2 separate regions of the Homo sapiens genome follow, and region 2 is linked to region 1. The links come from fine-mapping of genetic effects on gene expression. A gene starts in region 1. The other region holds a variant in brackets. All regions are shown on one strand. Distances are between the middles of the regions. Region 1 holds the start of TPO (thyroid peroxidase). Region 2 has its middle 41 kb from the start of TPO.

The links. PIP is the estimated chance that this variant, and not a neighbour inherited with it, causes the effect.
Region 2: its variant is fine-mapped to the expression of TPO in fetal neocortex (Walker 2019, PIP 0.95).

The regions. Positions count from the first base shown.
Region 1 is chr2:1,412,051-1,414,968 of GRCh38, forward strand. It overlaps TPO (thyroid peroxidase), which reads left to right and starts at 1,413. Exons shown (of 17, transcript NM_001206744.2): 1 at 1,413-1,495; 2 at 2,358-2,452. The coding sequence starts at 2,359.
Region 2 is chr2:1,371,214-1,374,131 of GRCh38, forward strand. It overlaps a transcript of TPO not described here. Among named protein-coding and RNA genes, the nearest start is that of TPO, 41 kb to the right of the region's middle. The variant A/ATGGATGGGCAGCTTGGG (reference allele first, on the strand shown) is at 1,317.

The DNA of each region.
Region 1 (2,918 bases):
TCCCAAATGTGTCTTTTTAAGCTGGACTTCACCCAACAGCTGAAAGTACATTTCCAAATGCCCAAGAGCTCACTGCCCGCCTGTGCCACGGGCACCTCCAACACAATTCCAAGCCTGAGTCTGCTGCTCCTTTGCTTGTCACAGCCAGTCTCCTTTCTTCTCTGGCCTTCCTAGGGCCAGTACATGAGATTTTCACTTGCTTAGGCATCAAACCGAGGATGGCTGAATCCTCAGAGGCTCTGTGCTTTTCTTCTGTTCCCAACAGTAACTCATCATTGAGCCATGGAATCCTCTTTAATGAGCCACCGAGTCTGGTCCTTCCTCTCTATCCAAACCCCACCCTCCTAGTGACCATTCTCAGGGTGCGTGGGGGGATTATATCACTGTTGGCTGATCTCCTCCCTGCTCTTCAGAGCTTGTCTAACTCATTTGTTATCTTCACCCATTTGAGGGGTGAGTGATGAGGATTGAGGGGAGAATGTTAAAGGCAAATCATCACATTCTTGGGCTTCAGAACATCTTCTAACAAAGATTAATGTTCTGAAGCCTTTGCATCGTGTTTTAGCATTTGGTTTCAAATTACCTAGAGGAAGCATCAGTCACATTTGGAGAAGGGAAAGAAAAGGAGAAAGATGAAGATGATTTTCACAAACTAGAAACCCATAGGACTTCCGGGGGCATGAAGAGGCTCCAAGTCTCAGGAGCAGGTCATTGAAGATGTGTTATTTTATCATTTTCATGATGAGATACAGCCTGAAAGCAGATCACCCATGAAAACATGTCATCTCCCAGTGTTCGGAATGCAGTCATGGTGACCTTCCTACAGAACATCTCTGTCTTTGTGGGGACTCTTTTGATGGGTGCATGATGAGGATTGAGGGGAGAATGCATGCTGGTGAACACACACTGAACTGTGCTCATTTTTCACCTCAACAAATTGGAAAAAAGTGTACTTTATTCACCTCTTAGTGATAAGAAAACTAGGGGCTTGGGGACAGGAAGCAAAAGGCTCAGAGTTGTAGAGCGAGTCATCGGTGGGCCTGGGAGCTGCACCCAACCCAATCCTCGGAAGATTAACAGCCCCTTTTTCACAGGGTATTTAACTGTGAAAGTAAGAGGGAGGAAAATGCAAGTGTCACAAGTCTGGATTTAGTTGGTTTATTCTTTCTCCCTGTATAATTTTTCCCCTCTTCTTCCTAACTCATTCGGCCAGAGGCTGGACTGCATGTGGACCCCGATGACATGGCACTTTGTTTCTGACCAGTCAGGACACACAAGAGGCCCGGCGCAAACACAACAAAGCCCGCAGACATTCTGTCCCCACGAAGAACGGACGCCACTCGACTTCCTAGCATCTTGACGGGCTATCCAAGCGCGGAGTCAGTTTATAAGGTGGGTAACCAAGTCCCTGGAAGGCAATTAAGGCGCCCATTTCAGAAGAGTTACAGCCGTGAAAATTACTCAGCAGTGCAGTTGGCTGAGAAGAGGAAAAAAGGTCAGGTTGTAAAGCTTTTTATTTTTCCATTTTCTAAGAGAAATTCATCATTGGAACTTGTAAAGTGGCCCAAGAGTGGCTGTAATTTGGGCCATTATAGCAGGTATGGGTGGCGTCTCTCAGCAAAGCTGACTGACTGACTGATGAGTGCTGTTTGCAATGACCTCCGCTGGAACATGTGAGTCCTGTAGGGTCGATTCCTAGATCACCGTCTACTGAGACACATTCCTGTCAGCATGGACTCACTGGTGCTATCCTGCTTAACAAAATTAGTGGCTCAAAAATAGCCACAGAAAGCCTAAGAGAAGAAAACAAGGATTTGAAAGTAGAAATGATGAATTTTGAATCTTCTGTTTTGTCTTAACAACTAGAATTCTAAAATCATTTTATGGACATAAGAATGCTTTAAGAAATTCAATAGGCATTTAGGGGTTTTATTTATCACTTTTATAAAGACTAAATTTCTAATAGTACTCACTTTTTGCCACATAGATGCATTAGGGGAAACAGATTTTTTTCATTCCCAATAATTATTCCCAGTACTGTTACACTATTTGACATTACCAAAAATTTAAATAGGTTATTACTGAGATATATTGGCAACTGGAGCTGCCAACATAAAAACTCTGTTTTTGAATAATGGGGGCCTGGGAGGCCTGCTCAGCGCTGCAGTTTCTGTAACCTCCTGACATGGACGGCGACTCTGGTCTCGCAGACCCCAGGCCTGTGAGGGTCGCTCACTGCGGTAGAGGCTGCGTGGAGTCAGTGGAGGGAGCCCCTCAGCAGGGAGACAAGGACACAGCGGTTCCCATGGCCTTGTCAGTGCTTGATTACATACTCTGTCTCCTTCCGTTAATTTTAGAATGAGAGCGCTCGCTGTGCTGTCTGTCACGCTGGTTATGGCCTGCACAGAAGCCTTCTTCCCCTTCATCTCGAGAGGGAAAGAACTCCTTTGGGGTAAGTAGCAAACACATTGCGGTCTTCTGGCCTTATAAAGTTATTTTTCACACTTACTAAAATAGAGGGCATAATGGTAGCTCCTGAGAGTCACTTTAGGCCCCTGTAGTGTATGCTTTGTTATGCTTAAGAAAAAAAAATTGTAATTCTTGATTTTAGAAGGATTGAAATATGTACATTTCTTTCTTTAAAAAAGAGCTGATTTTCCTTGGATGACACAATAGACAATTTTCACTTTTACCTATTCATATAACTGAAAAAAAAATTCTTTGGGAGTGTTTTTCTTCCTTTGCTACAGAATTATTTTTTATTAAATAACTTCTGTGATGTATTTTCTGGAATCAGTGTGCTACTATGTGAAAACAAGTTAAGAAAGCTACTGAGATGCAGTGGTTAAAATAATCACAGATCAAGCTCTTTGCTTTTCTTTTAATAAAATAAATAAAGTTCCAAACCCTGAGAACAA
Region 2 (2,918 bases), 41 kb before region 1:
TCTCAGCCTATTTTCATGTGTTTCTTGACTGTTTTCTTCCTCCAGGACTCCCTGCGTATCACAGCAGTGCCAGAGGAATCACGGCAGTTAGCCGGAAAGCTAGTTTACCCCTCCGGGCCCATAGTTCTTGGGAACTGATGTTCAGCTCTTCTGATTTGCTGACAGCTTCTCATAAATGTATAACCACGAATCCTGCCCTGCCCTTGCTGGTGGAGGGACCATTTGATTATTGTCCATTCAGACAGATAAAACTTAGGACAGGATTTTTCAAAACAGATATAAGATGGAGAACATTTCCATGTTGTTCTGGTTTGCTGCTTTCAGTGTTTGGGACAAGAGATAGACAGGTGGAGGGTACATAACCCCTCCCCCGATGCCCACAATCCCCACAGGTTTCCGACCTGACTTTTAAATACAGTTGTCAGCACACTGGCTGTCAAAACCAGAGGAGCCAAGGCTTGGAAGACTGTTGGCTTAGGAGTTGGGAGAACTCTGTGTCCTTTCTGAGGTGACCACAAGCAAGTTTAAACCCGTGTGAAGAATTTACCATGTTTAACTCTTTTGCTCATATATGGAATAGAAAAAGTCACAATCCCTGTTCTTCACCCCCTCACAACCTCATTATGGGCATCAGGTGAGAAATCTGGGAGGAAGTTCTCAGCAAACCAGGAAAAGTGGGTTTTGAGATTTGAGCCGGTGCCTGCCATCTCTAAGGGTGTCCTTATCCATGCAACCAGGTGCCTCCTGAAGTTATGAATGGAATCTGTGCACACACGCTAGAAAAGCAGCAGGAAGCATTCACAGGCAGCACCATTTCCCTAAGGAAAAGCACTTTCTATCTGTGAAAAAGGCCCCGATAGACGCGGGCTTAGAAACATAAGTTCCTCATTTCAGTGAAGCGCTTGCAAGCACTCCCTATCAGCAAGCTGGAGAAGTACACACAGAAAATGCAGGTTACGGTGGAAAATGAAGACATGCCTGGCACATCGTCAGGAGCATGGCTAAGTCAGAGACCCAGAGGCGGCATATGCTGAAGTACAAAATTAACACTTTGTAAAGCCCTTAACAGGTTAAAACCCTGGGATAAACTAACACAATCGATGTTTTAGAGAAGAAAGTACTATCATTGAATTTTAAAAAAGAAAAGATTCAAGGGGAGCCCGGTCTCCCAAACAGTAGCTGTTGGGAGAAGCATGTGGAACATTTAGGTGAAAGTGTTTTTGATCCATTCAACAAGTATTTGTAGAGCATTAACCCGGGGACCAGGCACTGTGACAGGTGCTGCAGCCACGGCCTTGGGTGGATGGGCAGCTTGG[A/ATGGATGGGCAGCTTGGG]TGGATGGGCAGCTTGGGTGGATGGGCAGCTTGGGTGGATGGGCACCTTGGATGGATGGGCAGCTCACAGGCTGGGATAAGCCATGGCACATAGCTGCTGAAAACGCCGATGTCATTCTGGTGCTCACCGTGAAGGAAGATGGGCAGACAATGGCTTGCCCCTCGCCATGCACCCAGAACCGGTCAGTTCACACAGGAAACGTGGACTTTTGTTCTGGGAGCCATGTTTCAAGAAGGACACTGACACACTGGTTCCCAACAGGTGGTCAGTTTTGTATCAGGTGCTTCCTTTAAAACACAACTCCACAGCACATGTCAGGAACTAGGGTTTTCATAGAGCAGGTAGGAAGCTATCCTGCTGTACACCCCTCTGGACAATCTGTACAAAGTGCACAGTAATTTTGCCACCTTAGCAGAATTTCCATAAACTGGATTATATTATAATGGGTTTTTTGTGTTTTTAATCTTAAAACTCAGAGTCAATACTCTTTCTCACTATTAATAGAGTGTACATATGGGAGTTTGGGTATAAACACGGGATAGAATAAATATAACTGACCTTATACATGTATCCTACACACTATCTCTACTATGTCATTTTTTTCTCTGTGAAACTGTGTGAGTCTGGGTGGGACGTAGCATAAGACGGACTACATGACTCTTCGAAATTCAGGTTACCCCAAATCTTTTCCAACAGGACAATCTTTTTAAAAGCACAGATAGATGAATACCTACTTTGTGCAGGGTATATAATAATGAAATGTCACAGAAAACTCAAACACAGGAAAGTGTGGGTGGCAGTTTTACCATTGTGGGAATGATCCCCCATCCAGGGCACAGCCTCAGCATCTTTTCCTATGCCTTTAACTTCAAAGGTCCATGGACAGTCCAAGCTCCAGGCCCAGAGGTATTACAATACGCAAACTAAAATACAGTTGTTTGTGGTGAAGAAAAAGTTGAAACAGTTTTAAGATGAATATATGTAGCTTCAAAATACTTAAGCCAACTGTAGATGATATTGTAAAAGATAAGCTGCTACCTGAAACCTATCTTGATGGGCCATTTCAGTTTCAGAACTAACATGCTGAGTGTTGTAAACAGCAGTTCTTGCCCCATGGCAGATCTAAAAGTGCCTGTGTCCGTTGGGAAGAAGAACGGTATTTAAAAGCCGTCTGAAATAAGCCTCATGGGAAAACAAGTCCACTGCCGCCCCTCCCACAGTCTCTCCGCTCTCCCTGCATCAGCCAGTGGTTCACACTGAGGACACACAGGTGAATCACGTTGAGAATTCCCAGCAGAACCGTAGTTTTCTCCCCAGCTGGCATCTCAGATCAGCCCCGTGGCTGATTCCATGGTGGGCGGGGAAAAGGGACCTACTTCACAATGACTTCCATCTGGGCCATGAGAGGAAGACTTGCCCCCGGCCAACAAGTATCCGAGAGCTGGAAAGGCCGCGTGAGCAAACAGACAAAACCTGCACTCGCCTCCCTTAAATTGAGGGGAAATCCTGGAGAAACGCCTTGCACACTCAGAAACAAACAAGAGAGATGGTCACGGCGGCCAAGTCTGCAGTTCACCTCTGTGGCCACTTCCCTCTGGATG